Homo sapiens: one gene and its partner. The protein of the gene in region 2 interacts with the protein of the main gene of each other region in a biochemical or structural test. Each region holds a gene or a part of one and is shown on either strand. Other genes may lie near its edges.

Evidence for each region.
Region 1: the proteins of CDK13 (region 2) and CCNK are reported together in a solved structure, tested with the Homo sapiens proteins (one study listed by IntAct).

The regions. Positions count from the first base shown.
Region 1 is NC_000014.9:99,489,199-99,500,356, reverse strand, and holds part of CCNK (cyclin-K), read right to left. Parts: intron 8,412-11,158; exon of another isoform or gene 8,037-8,411; intron 7,732-8,036; 5' UTR 7,680-7,731; coding exon 7,483-7,679; intron 6,844-7,482; coding exon 6,762-6,843; intron 4,860-6,761; coding exon 4,728-4,859; intron 168-4,727; exon of another isoform or gene 1-167. UniProt on the Homo sapiens protein: Regulatory subunit of cyclin-dependent kinases that mediates activation of target kinases.
Region 2 is NC_000007.14:40,093,256-40,104,238, forward strand, and holds the end of CDK13 (cyclin-dependent kinase 13), read left to right. Parts: intron 1-874; coding exon 875-1,725; 3' UTR 1,726-6,325; downstream 6,326-10,983. UniProt on the Homo sapiens protein: Cyclin-dependent kinase which displays CTD kinase activity and is required for RNA splicing.

The DNA of each region.
Region 1 (11,158 bases), on a different chromosome or scaffold from region 2:
TTTATGATAGCCAGCCTCATGAAAACTCAGAGATAAATTGTACCAGTGTGTGTGTATGTGTGTGTATATATACTCATGTACACATATAGTGTATTACGTGCAAATGGGGGCAAATCAATTTTGTGTTTAAATCTTTCATTTATTTGAAATAAATCATCCCAACAACACTTACTGAATAAATGATCATTTCCAATTTTATTTAAAATGCTACCTAAATCACCTCCTAAACTACGTGTGTATGTCTGCCTACACACACACTATCTTTTCTGTTCACTGATCTGCCTGTCTACTCCTGGACCAGGATCAAAGGGATTTGGGTGGGATACAATAGCTCCAGTATTACTTCTCTTTTTCAAACAGTTTCTGGGTTCTGCATGTCCCCCTCACTCAAATTTTAGTAACCATTTTACTTAGTATCATTACAGAAAACATACATGCTATTAATATTCTCATTGGAAACTCAGAGGATTTATAGAATAATTAGGGAGAATGGAGATTTTTAACCATATTGAAGTTTCCTTCCAAAAATTTATTAATATCTTTTCAGTCCTTTAGTTGTTTTAAAGTCCTTTCCACCCCACTAACGAGGTTTCCACAAGGTTTAACCTTGGATATTTTACTGTTGCTATCGTTAATGGAATGTCCTCTTTGATGATACTCTCTAACTAATGTCTTGAACTCAGCCCCTGTACAGCCGACTGTACCTACTGCTTAAAGACAACATAAACCACAACCAAGACACTGTGTGCGGGGAGGACAATTTGAGAGAATTCCTTGTTTGGCATCAAAGACAGGGCGTTGTAGAGGACTGTAAATCTCATCAACAGGTGCAGAGACCCACAGGTCACTGGCTTTCATTTAGAAGCATGGTATTATTTTATAGGATACAGAGATGATTCTATAATTATTATTCCAAATTACATGGCAAGACTAAGGTTTTTCAATCTTAGTTTCCCAAGCATTTTCTCATGAAAGTTTTTTAAAATCTTAGAAACTTTCACACAGTGTAAAAAAAACTGGGCTGGACATGGTGGCTCATGCCTGTAATCCCAGCACTTTGGGAGGCCGAGGCGGGCAGATCACTTGAGGTCAGGAGTTCAAGACCAGCCTGGCCAACATGCTGAAACCCCACCTCTACCAAAAATATAAAAATTAGCCAATCATGGTGGCAGGCGCCTGTAGTCCCCTACTTGGGAAGCTGAGGCAGGAGAATCGCTCGAGCCTGGGCGGCAGAGGCTGCAGTGAGCTGAGACTGTGCCACTGCACTCCAGCCTGAGTAACAAGAGTGAGACTCCATCTCAAAAAACAAAACAAAACAATTTTTTTCTTTGAATGTCATTGTCACCACCTGCTTCCCAGAAGCTTCAACACTTCCTCTAAATTTAGAAACAATTCTTTTTACCAAGTGTACCAATTGGCTTGCAGGCTGTAGCCCACATACTGTTACAGGATAGCCCAGGGCCTGCCCTCCCTCTGTCTTCCAAATATTCAATTAATGGGGTCATTATAGGTCTTTGAGCAAACATCATTCCTCAGGAACGCCTTCCCTCAGCCCCTATTTATCCGGGGGACTTGCCTGGGTCCCTGGGTGGAATGCTATCACAGCACCTTAAATGACCTTTTACAGCGTACACCACAACTCATCATCAAATAGTTATATACTCATTTGATTAAAATTTATCCTGCCACTCAACTGCAGAGTCCATGAGAGCAGAGACCATGTCTGTTCTGCCTCGTGCCTCATGTCTAGTGCCCAACACAAAGGCTGAAACGAATATTACAGAGAAAAGCCACACAATTAAAATAAAGCTAATTAAGGCAAAAAATGTTCCATGGGACTCATGATCTTATTTTTCCTAAATACTTATACTGCCTCCACTAAAGAATTGCCCTCCTGTCTGCAGAGGAAAACATCTTCCCCAATGTCTTCACTGCTCCCAGCTCCAGGTGTTTTCCTTTGGCCCCGACTCCGACCAGGGAAGACTGCGCGAGATAGAGAGGCAGGGGGCAGGTTGCAAAGCCCCCTCCCCCATTCAGACCTAATTGGTATGGTGACCCCTCTTTTCCCATTTTCTGGGGCACAGGAGCTTCAGAACTTCTACTTTCACTGTTCCTGGACTGGGGCTTGGTTTCCTGACTTCATGGTACAGTGGGTAAAGGCTAAAAGTAAAGGGGGCTTCTCCAAGGCACCCTGGGATGGCACAAACCAGCAGCTGCCACGAGTCCATGCCCTGCTGTGGTCCCAGATCTGTGTGATGCCTTATCCTTAAGCACAGCTTGCCAGCCACAAGGTTCACCTGCCCCTGTGACGGGGGTGTGACTGAACCACAGCATGTTCCTACAATCAGACTTATCACGTTAGGACACAGGGCCCCACTACTCAGTAAAAATCAAATACCCATGCACATTGAAAACATTATCTGATGGTGAAATTATTTCTATAAAACTGCATTTTTGGTTATAGTTAATATGAGTTCCTAATAGGTTCAAATGTTTATAAACAGATTAATGGATTTATAATTAAGTTCAAAAGAGTTACCCACATTGGCAATACTTAGAAAATACTAGTGTTAATCACAACCACAATATGTATAAAAGTGTTCTGGGCCCTTGTTAACTCCTCAAAGCAATGAGGAGAATGACTATACATTTTGTATATACATACATAATGCTTGGCAGAGAAAAAGATAACTATTGTGAGACAATACAAGCTAGTTAGGAAAAACAACACCATGAATGGGGCTGAACTTCATCGCTTTAGCTTTAACTGTGATTTAGAAATTTCCTCAGACCATTAGTTTGACATTTATTCCACGAGTACTTGCTGAATGCCTACTCTGTCCTGCCACTGAATGAGGCATTAGACAAAACAGATAGTCTTTGCTTTCATGCATCTTACAGCTGAGAAGGGGAGGGAGTTATGTGTGTGATAATTTGATAAAAATCATCTAATGGATACTACTATCTAAATGCACACCACTAAGTGAAAGAGACCAATCTGAAAAAGCTACATCCTATATGATTCCAATTCGATGACATTCTGGAAATGGTGAAACTATAGAGACAGTAAAAATATCAGTGGTTGCCAGAGGTTAGCGGGGAGAAGGAGACAAACAGGTGGAGCACAGAGAATTTTTAAGGCTATGAAAATAGACTACATGATACTATAATGGTGGCTACATGTTACTATACGTATGTCCAAACCCACAGAATGTACAACACTGAGAATGAACCCTAATGTAAAGTTTGGACTCTGGGTGATGTGTCAATGCAGGCTCATCAGTCATAGCAAATGTACCACTTTGGTCGGGGGGATGCTGAAAATGGGGGAAGCTGTGCATGTGTTGGGTGGGGGGTATATGGGAAATCTCTGTACTTTCCACTCATTTTTGCTGTGAACATAAAACTGCTCTAAAAAAAAAAAAAGCATTTTTTTTTTTTCTTGAGGTGGAGTCTTGCTTTCTCGTCCTGGCTGGAGTGCAGTAGCGCAATCTTGGCTCACTGCAACCTCTGCCTCCCAGGCTTAAGCAATTCTCCTGCCTCAGCCTCCCAAGTAGATGGGACTACAGGTGCGTGCCACCATGCCCAGCAAAAAATAATAAAGGTTTTTTTTTTTTAAAGTAATATTAGTTTATTTATTTTTTTTTGAGATGGAGTTTTGCTCCGTCGCCCAGGCTGGAGGGTAGTGGTGCCATCTCGGCTCACTGCAAGCTCCGCCTCCCGGGTTCATGCCATTCTCCTGCCTCAACCTCCCGAGTAGCTGGGACTACAGGCACCCACCACCACGCCCGGTTAATTTTTTGTATTTTTAGTAGAGACGGGGTTTCACCATGTTAGCCAGGATGGTCTCGATCTCCTGACCTCGTGATCCGCCCGCCTCAGCCTCCCAAAGTGCTGGGATTACAGGCGTGAGCCACCACGCCTGGCCAGTTTATTCTTATATAGTAGAGATGGGGTTTCGCTATGTTGGCTAGGCTGGTCTTGAATTCCTGGGCTCAAGCAATCTGCCCGGCTTGGCCTAAAGTATTTTTGAAAATCTATTTAATTGCAAACTGTGATAAATGTTATGAAGGATAATTAACAGGTGTTACTGAGGTTGCAACAAGGGGAACTTGATGCGAATGGGAGTGGAGGAACACTGCCATGGGTCCCTAAAAGTGGTATTTTAAAAACACAACAAAATATGTACAATTATTTGAGCACCACTTGCTGACACTGGCGTGAGCTGTATGGAAAAGATAGGATGGCTGGTGTGACCAGTATCAAGCTCTGGGTGCATAAAAATGCTGCAAATGTTGATACCTTCCAACATTCTTTAGAAGCAAAAGACACATGGCATATGTAGGCATGTGTATGTGTACATACAGCATACATACTTTTGTTTGACCCAGAAGCTAGCTGGAGTTGTAACCCTGCCATCACCACTGCACTTAAGAAGCAGAGTCCTAATGGCAATTAAGAGGATTTTTGCTCATATCCATGAAATGTGCCACTGCCCCAAAGTACTTAGAATACTGCTGGGCACATAAGGAAGCACTGAGTAAGTGTAGGCTACACGATCTTCCCTCCTTTCTTACAAAAGCATCAAGTAACTTCTACAGAAGGCCCTCTTAGGAACTCAAGAGACTGGCAGACACAAGGGCTACAGGCACTGTCAACATGTGGAACTGTACAATACTACCATAAGGAATCAAGACCAGAAGGCAGGAAGTTATTATCATTCTTACCTTTGGGTCATCTCCAAACTGGCCAAATTGTACATCATTTAATAAACTACGAGCTGTTTTGATGATATCTTTACATTTTTTTGGTGTTTCTTCTACTTTCCCAGCCAGAAAGAGGCAACAGGCTCCTGTCACCTAAAAGGGAAACAAAAGTTCTTGATTTTTGTTATCAAAGGTCACACAGAAATAGATACAATAAATTTTGGCCTTCGTAATAAACTGGTCTTCCTCATTCCCCTACCTTTCTTTTTATCATTCACAAATACTCCGATACTCTAGAAGCTTGAAGGAAATTTTATACATATAAATCCCCCAAACTCTAGCTTCATAAATTATTTAAAATTTAACTTTCTTAAAAAAAAAGTCATGTAAACAAAGAAAATGCCAAAAAGGAAAAGAGTCACATAAATAAATTTTCTTCTCATATTCCAATCTGAAATTAACTCCCTAAACAGCAAGCTTTGCCGTGGAAAAAGAAAGAGCACAACTAAACACAGTCCCGCGGAATCCATCTCAGCAGCACTGCCCATGCTTCCTTTTCCTTCTAGCACAGTCCTGTGGAATCCATCTCAGCACTGCCCATGCTTCCTTTTCTTTCTGCTATGGTCTGAATGTTTATGTCCTAATTCATAGCTTGAGACCTAATTCCCAAGGTGGCGGTATGAAGAAGTGAGGCCTTTGGGAAATGATTCTGAATGGGATTACTGCCCTTATAAAAGAGGCCCAAGGGGCTTGTTCCTCCCTTCCACCATTTGAGGATGCGGCAAGGAGCCCTTTTATGAGGAACAAACCCTTACCAGACACAGAATCTGCCAGCACCTTGATCTTACACCTCCCAGTCTCTACAACTGTGAAGAGTTAAGTTTCTGTTGTGTGTAAATTATTGGGTCTAAGGCATATTGTTATAGCAGCCTGAATGGATGAAGAAACTGTCCCTCCAGTTGCCTCAACCTTAGCTCAGTCCCTATATCACTGGGGTCTGAACTGCTCTGTCTTCAGCTTCTCTTTGCCCACTCCAATCCTTCCTACATGCCACTCTCCTCACATAATCCTGATCACACTAGATGTCAGACACTCTGCCGGGGGTACAAAACTGATTCCAACATGGTCTCCTTCTTCAAGAACTTCACAACCAGTGAGGAAGGCATGTATATAAATCTAACTAAAATCTTAGCTAACAAATCAACACAATGACTTTAATGTTAAGTCTGTCATTTTCACGAAACCTTTTAATTACTGCATTGTTCACCCACTGAAGCCAAATTTCTGAAGTCTGGCATTCGAGGCTTATCGTGGTCTGACCCAGTCTACCTATCCACCCAGGGTCTCATCATTTCCTTCCTGCCAAATCAAGCTCCTGGCTGGGCTGACAATGTGTCACATGGTTCCCCCTGCCTCTGCTTATGCTAGCTTCTGTTGGACCACTGACCTAGCCCATCACGGCATGGCTATGCCCTATGTACGTTTAAGGCTTACCTTAATGCTGGCACCTTCTTCCTAGCACTTTCCCTGCTCTCTCCAAGATGTAAGTTGTCTCCTCCTTGAATGCCACAACTCTTTTATCAGTATCTTCTGATGGCCTCACTTTCCATCACGTGTTCTGTGCATGTCATACCACTTATCCTGGACTGAAAGCTACTCTATCTCCCACAGAGAGTAAGACACAATGCACGTCTTGAGGAGTAACCGAAGAATGAGTGATATGGCATAGACAACTTCTGTTCCATTTTGCTTTCTTGGTCTTTGTTGAGTCTCAATTATAAGCCCAAATTTATGCTGGGAAAGGTACCACGGGAGTAAACTTTCATACAAAGCGCAATATGACTATGGTCCATATTGGCCTAAGTGAAAAGATTTGAACATGGCTAATTGGAATAAAAAAAGTTCAAACTTGATTTTGTTTATATGCAGTATATACCATATAAAAATAAATACTTTCTGGAAAATATGAGAAAAATAGAGCTTATAATTAGTCCACCAAACTGTGTGGAAATAATAACATATGACAGAGAATTACAATAAAATTCAAACACTTACATATCTTGGGAATTGCTTGAAGGAATGAAACATATAGAAGCGATGAAAATAAATTATTCCAGTTGCCAGGGTATCATAGTGTCTGTTGTTCTGGTTAAGGACTCTAACCAATAACTTTTACAGGTTATACTCTTAGTTAAATGTAGAAAAACAAAAAGACAAACAACAACAACAAAATCAATGGTAAAGTAAACAATATTAGTGGCAAAGTAATGAGATGGGAATCTCAGGGTGTCAGAATTCTGGTACAAGAATTAGCAAGCTGAAGTTTTATACTTTTAACACCCTTTAGAAACACTTCAACTATGATCTTTTTTTTTTTGAGACAGCATCTCTGTCACCCAGGCTAGAGTGCAGTGGTGTGATCTTGGCTCACTGCAGCCCAGGTTGGTCTCGAACTCCAGATTTCAAGGGATGCTCCTGTCTAGGCCTCCCAAAGTGCTGGGATTACAGGCATGAGCCACTGTGCCCAGCCTCAACTGTGATCCTAATGGGTGCCTCATATCCTCCTGGCTGGCCACCTCCTCAGTGGCTAAGTCTACACCTTTAAAATGACAAATCAGAAAGAGAAAAACCCCCACCAGAAACAACATTCAAACAGATATTTAAGAACTGCTCTGGTACAGAGAAATTACTATATATTTTGTCTACAGAATCTAATTATTTCTTGGTGGTGAGTGGGGAGCCTATCTGTAACAGATTCCAAGGAGAGTCAGGATACAGCCCCAAACGTGTGCCCACATCAAAGATGAACCGAGCGCCCTCTCGGCGGTACCGGGCCTCGGTGGCTGGATCAAGTCCTTCAAGTTGTGAGGGTGTATGAGCCAAGTCTTTCTTATCCCAGTACCAACATGGCTTTGTGTGGTCCAGGTTTGCTGAAGTTACTGAAGGGCTTGAATTTTCTTTATTCTCCTTCATTTATTGAAGTAGGCTTGTTCTTTCCAAAAGGTTCTCTGAAAATGTTAGAATCCTATGAGAAAGAGAAAAACAAAGTTGGAAAGGAATACTCCATACTATAAGCAATCTAGAATCATAGATTGTACCTGGTTTGGGATCACTATTTCCTATAGAAACCACACTGTCAATTGCCAGTTACAAGCCCGGGCTAACTCCAGAGCCAATTTAACACAATACTGTAAGATGACCCCAGTACTAATATTAATAAATCTCAAATTTCATGGTAGTTTAAAAATAAGACTATTTCCTCCCTCTCTCTTGAGATTAAAGGGTTAACCTTATTTGACAAAGTTTTGGAAGAAACGAAGTATATCTCACTTTCTTCTGGTTTTTCTTCACTAGACATACAGGTCCTCTAACGCTGGTCCAGATTCCATTCTTCAGCAAAACCTGGGCCTGTCTTAATCTTGACAAAGATTTATGTTCTAAAACTAACCATCTCTTCCATCCAGCACCCCTTTTCAGTTTATTCCATGTAGGCACTTTCACTTAGACAAGTCATGGGATTGGGTTAATTCACATCTGCACAAATCACTGAATTCACTGATGTAAACCAAATGTGCATCTTGTGATTTGGGGAGTGGGTGGATGGAAGTGGTCCATGAGAGAAGGAGCTCCTTTAAACTGTTCTTGCTTTTTCATCCTCTTCCTTTTCTTTCACTCAGAATAAAGACACTCTCCAAAAGCTCCATGCTGAGAGAAAGAAAGAAAGAAAAAAACAACAACAACGAAGGATCTCATCTAGAGACCACTGTTAGAAATAAGTCATTTGTAACCTGGATCAGAGACAGCAGATACTTTCAAATAAGGTATCAAAAGGGTTCTGAAAGAGCTGGCTGGAGCCAGGTTAGTCTGGTTAGCAAGAAAACAGCAGCTCTGTGGCCAGGTTCTGGGCCAGGGCTCCCACCAGTTCATCTGGAAACCTAACCTTTTCTGTGTATCTGCCTCATTTCTGGTGGGGAAGGTGACATGGTGGGGCTGAATATTCTCCTCCTTGCACCTGGTAGCTCTGAAGGAAATCTGATCTTCCCTCCAAGAGGAAGAATTAAGTACCTGGAGAAAAGCTTGAACTAATAATTTACATTTTTGTGTGTGACTGATTAAATTGGGCACTGTTCAAAGGGCGGGGGAGACCAGTTAATTAAAACCTCAGAAAATATGACCTGTTCATAATCAGACATCACACTGAGATACAATTCTCACCTACTGGATTGGCAAAAATCCCAAAGTTTGACAATTTGCTCTGTTGGCAAAGCTATAGAGAAGCAGGTGATCTTATAAGCTTCTGGTGGGAGTACAAAATGGTCCAACTGTCACAGAGAAGTTGACGATATCCAACAAAATTACACATGCATTTGCTCTTTGACCCAGGATTCCCACTGCTGGGAATCGACTCTGAAAATATTGTCCTAACTATGAAATGTCACAACTATGAAACAACATGTGCACAAGATTATTCACTGTAGTGTTATTTATAATGGCAAAACTATGAACAACCCAAACGCCCATCATCAGGGGACTGGCTGAGTAAAATATGACACATGCACACAATAGCATACCCCACAGCTATTAAAAAGAATGAGAAACATCGTTAAGTACTGGATGGAGAAATTTCCAGATCAGCAAGGTATAGGATAGTGTACACAGTATGTTAGCATCTATGTAAGAAAGGAGGGGAAAAAACAGACATCTCTTTTTTTTTTTTTTTTTGAGACGGAGTCTTGCTCTGTTGCCCAGGCTGGAGTGCCAGTGGCATGATCTCGGCTCACTGCAAGCTCCACCTCCTGGGTTTACGCCATTCTCCTGCCTCAGCCTCCCGAGTAGCTGGGACTACAGGCGCCCGCCACCACGCCTGGCTAATTTTTTTGTATTTTTAGTAGAGATGGGGTTTCGCCGTGTTAGCCGGGATGGTCTGGAGCTCCTGACCTCGTGATCCGCCTGCCTCGGCCTCCCAAAGTGCTGGAATTACAGGTGTGAGCCACCGCGCCCAGCCAGACATCTCTATTTTTTTAAAGTAATTCAAAAAATATTTACCAATAAGGAATGGGGAAAAACAGGATGGAAAAGACAGGAATGGAAACAAGACTTCTCTATGTATATATCTTTTTATACAGCTTTGCCTTTTTATGAAAGCTTTTATTTTAAACTAATTGTACGTTTACAGAAGAGCTGTAAAGATAGATGAGTTTTGTCTATACCCTTCACTTAGCTTCCCCAATGTAAACATCTTCCATAACCATGGTTCATTTATCCAAAAAAAGAAATTAACTTTGGTATAACCACTATTAACTACACATCATATTTGGGTGCAGGTGATATCAGAACAACTTACTGCTGTTAACCATGAGCTCTTGGTTAAGATGGAGTCTACCAGGTTTCTCACTGTAAATTATTATTTTTCCCTTCCTATCTTCTATTCCTTAGATGCAAGTCACGAGGTCCAGCCCACACTCAAGGGTAAAGGAATTAAGCTCTACTTTCTGGAGGCAGAGATATCAAAGAAATTGTGGACATATGTTAAAACCACCCACTAGTAAGTAAATATTTTGGGGGAAATATTTTACAATGCAAAATACTATACAAATGTCTATTTCTCCTTCAAGTTTCATCTACTAATTTTAGCATTCACCTGAGACGATTACAACTGTGGTGTTCTAATGGTGACTTTCTATTTCCTTCACTGCTTCAACATTTATTATTTGGAATCATTTTGTTAATATTTGTTTCTTCTCTCCCATTTGTTTATTTACTTTAGTACAGACATGAGTATTTTATTCTTTGGGTTATAATCCAATACTATCATTATTTATTTTGTTGCTCAAATTATTCCAATGTGGCCATTAGGTGCTCTTTCAGCTTGACTCCCTGCAGAGTACTTTTATAACTTTGATGTTTGAATCATGTAAATATTTAACATACTCATACACTTAACTAAAAATAAAAAAGCAAATCCTAAAACTCAAACCAAATGGGCAACAAAATCACACAGAAACTTACTTCCAAGTAATTTCTGATATTGTTACATGCTTAGTGAGATATATTCTAAGGACAAAAATAACTGAAAAGAATTATTTATTTGTTTATTTATTTACTTACTTACTTATTTTAGAGTCAGAGTCTTGTTCTGTCACCCAGGCTATAAGTGCAGTGGCATGATCCTAGTTCACTGCAGCATCGAACTCCTGGCCTCAAGCGATCCTCCCGCCTAGCCTCCCAAAGTGCTAGGATTATGGGTATGAGCCACAGTGGCTGGCCCCAACGAAATTTTAAAACTTCATTAGTGTACTGTTAGTAGTGTCATTAATGTTGTAATTTTCAAACACATTTTTTTTTGCATGTTGTGGAATAAAGCAAATATGTAAATGCTAATGTTGTTAGGAACCAAGATTTTCAGTGCAAAGAAAACAAATGCACACATGCAGAAAACCAAATGTTAAGAA
Region 2 (10,983 bases):
GACCACTAACACAGCTGCATTACATTGTCTACTCAGTGTTGCTGACTATATATAATGTGTATAGTTCAGTGACATTGCCAAAAGATGTCCTGAAGAATCTCAGGTAACTGGCAATAGGTTGGTTTTTCAGTCTGTTTACTTCCAGGAATGGATTCTTTAACAAATTATCCATGTGAGATAGAACTCATTGTGAATGATAAAGATATTTCTAAGGTAAACCTATGGTTAAGAAATAATATTTAACTCCAAATACGAAAGGATGCTTGACTAAGGCATAATTTATGTACACAGTAGCTTTTGTTCCTCAAGCAATGAAGTATACGTGAATTCTGCACCTAGCCGTAATTAGCTTTAAAAAGCCAATTACGGCTGGGTGCAGTGGCTCACACCTGTAATCCCAGCACTTTGAGAAGCTGAAGTGGGAAGATTGCCTGAACCCAGGAATTCAGTACCTATCTGTGCAACATAGTGAGACCCTGTCTCTAAAACAATTTTTTTTAATTAACTGGGCATGGTAGCACATGCCTGTGATTCCAGCTACTTGGAAGGCTGAGGTGGGTGGATCACTTGAGCCCAGGAGGTCAAGGCTGCAGTGAGCTGTGATCACTCCACTGCACTCCAGTCTGGGTGACAGAGTGAGACCGTGTCACCAAAAAAAAAAAAAAAAATTTTTTTTTTTTTAAAGAGAAGCCATATACAGTAAAATTTACCAGTTACCATAGTACTTGTAAACTTTTTGCTTTTTTCATTTAACATTTTGCCAGAGATGGAACTTCTAATCATCTTTAGAACTACCTACAGGAAACACTGAGTATTTTGAATATTTAGTTTTCCATGGTAACTTTTGACCTTGTTTTTGCTCTGTTTCACTTAGGACAAGATGACCTCATCCAGCATCAAGATATGAGGATCTTGGAGCTAACGCCAGAACCAGACCGGCCTCGAATTCTGCCTCCTGACCAACGACCTCCCGAGCCTCCTGAACCACCACCAGTCACTGAGGAAGATCTAGATTATCGGACAGAAAACCAGCATGTACCCACCACCAGTTCTTCATTAACTGACCCTCATGCCGGAGTGAAGGCAGCCCTGTTACAGCTGCTTGCTCAGCATCAGCCCCAGGATGACCCCAAAAGAGAAGGTGGGATTGATTATCAAGCAGGAGACACTTACGTGTCCACTTCAGACTACAAGGACAACTTTGGATCCTCTTCTTTCTCTTCTGCTCCTTATGTTAGCAATGATGGTCTAGGAAGCAGTTCTGCTCCACCACTAGAACGACGTAGTTTCATTGGAAATTCAGATATTCAGTCTTTGGATAACTACAGTACTGCTTCATCTCATTCTGGTGGTCCACCTCAGCCTTCTGCCTTTTCTGAGTCATTTCCCAGTTCAGTAGCTGGATATGGAGACATTTACCTCAATGCTGGTCCCATGTTGTTTAGTGGAGACAAGGACCATAGATTTGAATATAGCCATGGTCCTATTGCAGTCCTGGCAAACAGCAGTGACCCTTCCACGGGGCCAGAGAGTACTCATCCTTTGCCAGCAAAGATGCACAACTATAACTATGGTGGTAACTTACAGGAAAATCCGAGTGGCCCCAGCCTCATGCATGGACAGACCTGGACTTCTCCTGCCCAAGGACCTGGATATTCACAAGGATACAGGGGACATATTAGCACATCAACTGGCAGAGGCAGAGGCAGAGGGTTACCATACTGAGTATCTGTTTTTCCTCAGGCACATCATTTTTATCTGGAAAGACTTTTCTAGCTGCAATTTAAGGCAGCAATCCAAGAGACTTGAATAATAATAATTCAACAACAGCTTTATTTTTATGTGGAGAAGGGTCTTGCATACAATAGTTTAAAAAAGACAAAAAAAACCTTTGCTTAAATTCATGCTGTTCTAAAAACTAGATCGATTGTACATCTTCACAAATTCTAGTTAACAATTTTATTTTGTATTCTTGCAGTTTTAAGTGGATGCTAATTTTAGGGGCATAAGCCTTTTATGGCCCTCTTGCAGATCTTCTGAACTATGCACATTTGTGCTTTTTTTGTAAGTTTGGACCAACTTTTATGTAACAAACAGCCCCTCCCCACCTCCAGTTTTACAACAATCAGAAAGGGCACTGATTTATTTGGTATTTTTCTTTTTACAAAGCTACCTTTAGTCAAAGGTCACTGTCAGTCTTTGCACCTGCTTTCAGTGTTATTGTGAAAGGTGTACTTTGTGCTCATTTCAGAAAATAAAACACAACCTTTCTCTTGATGCAACAGTTTTATAAAAAAAAAAATGGTCAACGTTATTTTTGTTTTGTTTTGCAGATTATCAAAGCCTAGCAAAATGCATTTAAATGAAATAGTGGGTTTTATATGAAAACTATGGGTGGGGTGGGGAGGGAAAGTAAGTGCCTTAACAGGTAAGCTTAAGGTCTGAAAAAAATAGTTAACTTTTACCCCCATTTGTCTTTTAAAGGGAATCAATGCATTAAAAAGGCAAGAAACTCTGAAGTTTCAGGGGCTGCCTGTTCAGTTCCTGTTAGGTCCATTCCCTCTGCTTGTCACACTTTCTCCTTTTCTGCCTGTCTTTGGGCTGTGTTGCCTTTCACTACCACCTTCTCTTGATAGGGGAGTGAGAGCAAAGAAAGGGAGTAGAACTGCAATCAGTACATATTGTTTGAGAAGTTCTACAAAGTTTTGTCATTTAAATGGTTGAAAGTAATAGCTCCAGGAGAATTTTAGAGTACCATTTTCTTTCAGGCTGCCATATTATCCCTGTTTCCATTTGCCATGGATAATTGGAGGGTCATGGTATAGAAGCAAGAGTTAATAACAGAACTTGCCTAAATGTGTTAAAGTTCATGGGGGAGGGGTGGCAAATACCGTATTTTAAGTTATGCAATTGCCCTTTTAAGAAAGTCAATTCTATTCACTTGTTAACTAGAAACATTGCTTAGATTGAATTTATTGAAGCAAAAAGAAAAGGCAATGAGAGAGAACTTTTATCTTCCTTCCTGTCACATTCTGTAAAGTTGATTATGACTTCTGCCAGACTTAGAGCAACAACTTTAGTTCATTTTAACATTTTTTTTTAATGAAGAGCATCAAAGAATGGAGTAGTCCTTATTTAAACTGTAATGGTGTCAAGTCTCACTGTGTGCACACTCTCACACATACACACACAATTATACTAATTCTAGAAAGGAACCAAAGGTAAATAACCAGTGTTTCCATTATCACTAAATGGAAAAATTGACTGGAAGTTAGAGTTGTGCCAATTAATCATTTTGTTCATCAACTGTTCTGGTAACTTATTTTTTTTTATTGGAATCTTAAATTGGAACAACTGTTACAGAATGTATATTGCTCCAGTTCTAAAGCCAGTTAACCCTGTGCCCTCTAACTTATGAACCTTCATTTCAAAACAGTATGTGGGAAGTCCTGTAGTTTGATAAGAGTAAAATTATTTTAAAGAGGATAATTTACCATTTTACTACTATAAAATAAGTTGATATCAGTTGACCATTTTATTTTTTGATGGACTCTTTTTGTTGGGAGAAAGAAATGAATGGAAGAAAAAAATATGTTGCTTTTATTTGAATATTGATTACTAACAACTTATAAACTACATTGCAGGAAATGAAGAAATATTTTGAAATTAGCAAAATAGCAACAGTATTCAAGTATCTGAAATTTTAATATGGTGAGTCTTAGAGCTTTAGACTTTCCTATAAGTGACAGTATCTAAGTTATTCTTAATAGTCACACTTGATAATTCTGCTGACCATAAGCAGCTAACCTACAGTTGAAGATATTTATGTGACATGAATAGCCTGTGTTTTAAAAATTAAATATTTTATATAAAATTGAACTGTGTTTGGATAGTTTTTCTAATCAAACATTTCAGTTATATATTTATGTTGGGAGAGTGGCTGGGAGGACAGGGAAATTGTTGCTTTGACATTGAAAATTTGAACTAGAACTTCTAATATTATCCTTACACAGCACTACTGTGAGACATACTAGTCTTTTATATGTCACTTAGAAGAAAAAATGTTGCCAATTAAGCCACAATACAATGCTAAGACGTCATCAATTGTAAGCTGCATCCCAGATTCAGACATATTATATGAAAATATGTCTTATAATTGATGAAATATGATAGTAAAAAATTTTAATGCTTCCCTTCATAGCATTTAATATTTTAATTCAGTGAATTTGGATTAATAGAACAAAGTTGGGAAATCACTAGTTCTGTAGGTTATAACAGCAGTCATCGCTGAAAATTTGAGTGAAATCTAAAGAACACAAAATATTGCTTAAATTTTTTGGAAAAAAGCAGGTAAGTCAGACTGCAAGTTAAGAAGACAAAAATATAAAAGATTTGACCTGCCAAAAGAAGAAAGTATTTATCTTCTCCCACGTGAAATTCCCTTTTGTATTTACTGACACAGCAGGTTTTTCTGCATGCAACTCAGTATGTTTCCTACGTCTTCATTATTTGTTGGAGAGTTGCAAGTCATTTGTGAAACCTTAAAATGCCAATTTTAAGGAGTTGTCATTTGTGGAATGTGAAATAAGGTAATAATTCTAGCTGTGATTCAGAGCTTTATTCTGTCAGCAAATACATAGTCAGTGCCTACAACATGCCAGGTAGTAATCTAGTCCTTGGGGTACATCAATAACCGTCAACAGTGTTAAATCATACTTTCAGTGTGCTGACAGTGAGCAAGATTTTTTTAAATGTCTGGAGAAGTTAGTGGTATTTGCTACCCTCAGCTGTATCTAAATTGCACTTAAGTGAATGTAGGGCATGAAAATTTGAGTATCTTTTTGAAATTTTAAATTGAAATTTGGATAGAGATGGTTATGGAGAGAAATCAAACAACTGGAATAGCTGTTTGATATCACTTAAAAGTGATAAAATTTTAAGTTGAATCTGGTCAGTTTGCAATGGCCTATTTGTAAGAAATATCAAGACTTCTTGAGAAAAATGAAAAGTGAATACATAAATGCTTAAAATCTGGTACTTCTGAGTTAAGGTTTTGCTCTTTGAGCTTAATCCAATTTGGGATGATTTTTCATCCTAGGGCTTTTTGTTTTCCTTTTTTATTTTTATTTTTTCTTTTTTTAGGGGAAGGGGACTTGCTTTCTTTTCCAAAAAGGTGAATCCTTCTTGTAGGACATAGGTAAAAAAAACAAAGCTGAAATATATGTTTTGAATATAGATAGCTAATTCCCTGGGATATAATATCCTTTCAATTTTTTTTTTTTTTTTGGCCCAGTCTGCCTTTTGATGTTTTAAAAGTCTGAACGAGATGTCCCAGTAACCTAAAATTATCCAGTCGGTCTTCTTACTTTACAACTAAGAAAAATAAGGCTTAGAAAGAGGGATTGCCAGAAACTTTGGCAGCTGGATTGCCTGTGCTTGTTCCTCTAAGCCATACCTAAATTCTGCAGTAAATACTTAACTTTTTAATAGGGAAATTGCTTCAAGATAACTTGACCAGTGATACGGTAAAATAATTAGACTATTGGACTAATGGTTTAACACAAGTGGCTTTAAAAAGTCTGCTTAAAAAACAATTTTTATTTAGAAAAAATAGAAAAATAAAAACATCTTCAAAATTTAGGAGCCTGAAGGGGCTGTTTGTTTCATATATGGATAATCTTTGAAAAGGCAAGTCCTGTATGTATTTTTCATTTGTTGAAAGAAGATTGGTTATCAGTAGGCTTGCAAACATAATTTGCTTTTAAGTTCTTTCAAGGTTTTATGCAATAAAACCTATTGATTTGGAACTTTAAAAAAAAAAACAACAAAAAAATACTTTCAGGGTTTTGTAATTTCAAGTGGTTTTTTAAGGGGAGCAATAGTTTGCCATTTACCAAAGGCTTCTCCAGATAATTTCTTAAATGTTTCTACTTAAAAATAAAAGCTATTAATAATAAGCTGTCATGGGATCCATTTGAAGACAGGGAAAATAGAAAATTTTTATTGTAAAGGGAAGAACTTATCCTTTTAATTTTATGGACTAACAGAGTCTGCAGGTCTTAACTCATTTCAGCCTGTCAAATGTGCAATTAAAAATGAATTTTCTAATTGTATTCAAATGAGGCTCTATAGTGAATACAGAATCACTCTTCTAAGTTTTTTCCCAGTTAATTTGTTTAAAAGTGTTGTACTCTCTTGCAAGAACGTTTAAAAGTTAAGTCTTGTAACTGTTAACATCTAATGTATTAATATAAGCCATTTGTTTTTTACCATTTTTTTAAGGCCGTATTCAATAGTCTGTAAATAAATTGCCGTAACACTCCCAGGCCATTTTTCAGCCTTGTTTGCTTTTTGCTTCTATCCAGAACAGACTTTTTGAAGTAATCTTATCTGATAAAGATGACCACTTGTAATCCACTGTGCCGTTTTTTTGACAAAGGTTAAGATGTGGAATCTTTTTTTTTCTTTTTATAATTAGTACATATTTGGAAATAGGAACACAGAGAAGAACACCCCCAGATAACCACATAATATTTTGCCTTTGATGGATGTATTTGAATGCATATCTTGTTTTTTTTTTTCTTAAAACAATGGGATCATACTGCCCATAGCTTTGTAATTTGAATTTTTTCATTTAATAATATGTTGTGAACATCTCTTGGTATCAGTCAGTTAAATTCTATCCTCTTTCCCCCAGTCTGGAATGCAGTGTCGACATCATGGCTCACTGCAGCCTTGAACTCCTAGGCTCGAGTGATCCTCCTGCCTCAGCCTTCCAAGTAGCTGGGACTACAAGTATGCACCACCATGCCTGGCTAATTTTTTAAATTTTTTGTAGAGATGGAGTCTCCCTGTGTTGTCCGGGCTGGTCTTGAACTCCTGACCTCAAGCAATCCTCCTACCTTGGCTTCCCAAAATGCTGGGATTAAAGACATGAGCCACTGCGCCCAGCCCACCCTCTTTTTAATGGTTGTAAATTATTGCTTTATAGAGGAACCATACTTTCACAATTTCTCATTGCTGGACACAATATTTTGGACTTTTCTGTTACAAATAATGTGATGAAAATCCACAAAAATACATACATACACACAAACATAAATCAATTTCCTTGGAGTTGCTGGTATAAAGAATGCACTTTTAAAATGTTTGCTAGATCCAAATCGCTCTAGGGAAAAGTTTACCAGTTTCCCATTCCTGTTCCTTAACCTTTTCATTTAGCCATGTTGGGTACTTAAAAGTTAGAGATCTTTGTTAGTTAGACAGGTGATAAATCATCTTGTTTTAATTCATGTTTCTTGGATTACTAGTGAAGTCCAACACTTCATATGTTAGCCAGGTCTTTTATTAACTATTCAGATGTTTGAAAACTTTAACAGCTGATCCTAATATTATGTATATATATAGTATAATGCATACATGTATACATATATAGTATGTATATGTACATATCTATATTGTATATATGTATGTATATATTGTAAATATGTATATTATGTATGTATATTGTATATATTTGTTATATATATTTGTTATGGGAAAATTTTAATATGTAGTTAAGTCTGTTAATCTTTTCCTTGTTTCTCTTTAGAAAAGCATTTAGAAAAGCTTTCCTACTCCAAAGTTATTTAAACATTTACACATATTTTAGTATACATTTAATTCTAAACCATTCTATATTTTATAGATGTTTGTTTTGAGATATGGATCCAACTTTACACTTTTTTTTTAATCTTTATCTTCTGTTTACAAGTCCTACACTTGTATCATTATAAACTAGGCATCTGACATTATGTGTGTGTGTTTTAAAAATAATTTTATTTTCAATTCCTAGAAAATGTGTACCACATAAAATTTGTCAGGCAGAACTTTAATTTAATTGTCCCCTTTTCAGAGTTTTCTATTCCTGTTTATTTTTCCATGTGACTTTCAGAATCATTTAGATTATTTTCTCAAGTATTCTGTTAGGATTTTGGTTGGAAACATATTAAATGTTTTTTACTTAGGGGATCTTTCCATTGAGAGCTTAGTAGAATTGTTTTTTTACATGTTCTCCATTAAGAGTTCGAACTGTTTTTTTTTTTTTTTTGAGACAAGAGTTTTACTCTGCCGCCCAGGCTGGAATGTGGTGGTGTAATCTCAGCTCATTGCAGCCTCTGCCTCCCAGGTTCAAGATTCTCCTTTCTCAGCCTCCCAAGTGGCTGGGATACAGGCCCCTGCCACCACACATGACTAATTTTTGTATTTTTAGTAGAGACGGGGCTTTATCATGTTGGCCAGGCTGGTAAGGGTTCCAAAATTTTCTTCATGTTCTTTTTTTAAGTTTCCAAAAATATTTTTGTTGCTTTTAGATATGGACTCCTCGTATTATAATATTTTTAACTAGTCACCACTTATATTGTAAAGCTGATTCTTAATTGTTGTTGTTAAACTGGCCACATAACTTTTATTATCATTTTTAATAGTTTTCAGTGAATAAGTATAATGGCATTCTTGTTTCTGATTTTACTGATGTCTGATTTTTAGTGTTTCAGTCGTGTAATTTATAGGTTAAAAATAGAATATTATGTTTAAGAAGAATCTTTTTTCATGAAGCCTGCTTATTAGGATCAGCTGTTAAAGGTTTTTTTCAAATGACATTATATGCAATTGCTCTTTTGACCTTTTGATGACAGAATAGAATGTAATAACCATTAATTTAAAATGCTGTTATATTCTAATTCCTAGCCATGTATTTAGGACTTTGTATCTATGTTTTGTATCTGTGTTAATTTTGATTAACAGGTTATGACAGATTGGCAGAATAAGCTGGAAAACTAATGTTTTATTTAGAATATAGATCCTGCTGGGTGCCGTGGCTCACGTCTCTAAACCCAACACTTGGGAGACTGAGGCGGGTGGATCGTTTGAGCTCAGGAGTTCAAGACCAGCCTGGGCAACATAGTGAAACCTCGTTACCACCAAAAATACAAAAAACTTAGCTGGGCATGGTGGCGCATGCCTATAATCCCAGCTACTCGGGAGACTCAAGCAAGAGAATTACTTGAACCTGGGAGGCAGAGGTTGCAGTGAGCTGAGATCATGCCACTGCACTCCAGCCTGGGTGACAGAGCAAGACTGTCTCAAAAATAATAATAGTAAAAAAAGCGATGTTTTAGTTATCTTAACTATTGTAATTATTTCTAAAATGTTATCCAGCAAACATACTTGGGGTAGAATGTTAGACATTTATTTTAAGATGAGGAATAGACAAGGATGTCCATTATTAGTTACTGTTCAGGTTGTCAGCATTTTTGAGGGATGGAGGAAGGTAGAGAAGGGTTTGAAAAGGCATAATTTTATTTATTTATTTATTTATTTATTTATTTATTTATTTGTTTGTTTGTTTGTTTGTTTGAGACAGGGTTTTGCTCTGTCACCCAGGCTGGAGTGCAGTGGTGTGATCATAGCTCACTGCAGCCTTGAAATCTTGGGCTCAAGTCATTCTACCGCCTCAGCCTCCCAAACAGCCGGGACTTACAGGCACATGTCACTATGCCCGGCTAATTTTTAATTTTATTCTTAGAGACAGAGTCTTGCTATATTGCCCAGGCTGGTCTCAAACTCCTGGCTTCAAGCGATCCTCCCAAAGTGGGAGGCCACAGTGGGAAGATTACAGGTGTGAGCAACTGTACCCAAACAGAAAAAATTATTAATGGCAGACTTAAGTGATTGTCTATGTAAAGCACACAAGATAAACTATTATTAGCATTGATAGATTTGTGTGAATTGCTAGTAACTTTTACAGTAGTCTCCCCTTATCTGTGGGTATGTGATCCAAGACTCACCACTTAGTGCCTGAAACTGCAGATAGTACCGAACCCTGCATAATACTGTTTTTACAATCTGATAACCGAGGCAGCTACAAGTGACTAATGGGCAGGTAGCATCTACAGCAGGTAGAGCCAGGATGGTGTGAGATTTTATTATGCTACTCAGAACTGCTCACAAATTAAAACTCATTAATTGTTTCTGGAATTTTCCATTTAATATTTTCAGACTGCAGTTGACCTCTGATAACTGGGGTAAGCAAAACTATGGATAAAGTGGAACTACTGTGTGTAGAAGAAGAGGCCATGAATAGCTAAGGTAATTTCAAAGAACAAGATTTTGGATTTGTTCTACCAGATATAAAGATTCCTGGGACAAATGATTATCTACAAGAAGAAATAGGAAGAGGCAAATTTTGAAAAAAAAATAACACATTTTCATAGATCTGAATGGGAAAACTTTAAAATACTGAGAAAGAACAAATACACTTTGACTAGCAACTCCACTTCTGGACATATATATATTTAGCTTATTTCTGTCTGTATAATTTTATATATAATTATAAAGTGAAAAAAGGTAAATATCTTAAATATTCATTTGTAGGAGAACAGTTAAATAATATGGATAAAAGTATAGAATGACTCCATTGTATTAAATAAGTATTTCTATATAGTGCATAGAGTATTTGAAAACTGAAACTGATTGTGGGTTATAATAGAGCAGATTGTTTTAAAAAGAGACTTGTGAGCCAAGACTAAATCCTGGTTTTACTATTTATTAATCTGTATAGCTATAGCCAAGCTATTAAAACTCCCTTATTTCTCAGTTTTTTCGTTCATGAAGTGGGTACAGTACCTAAAGGTTTATGTTGAGGATTAAGTAACTGAATAGTGCCTTGTACATACTTCAGGGCTCCCTGAATGTTTGCTGTTGTGACTGAGAGAAGAACTGGGTGGGAGTGGGGAAGGGGGAATTTTGCTGCTGCTTTGATGCTTATTTTTTATCTTGATTAAGAAAAATGTATTTGTAATAAAATAAATTTTTAAGTAGGAATTTATGGGTTCCAGTCAACAAAGCAACAATATTCACTCTTGAGACTTTCCTTCCGGTTTTAAACTACTTTCTGTCTAGTTCCACCTTAAATATCTGATAGAAAAAGATTAATGAAGAACT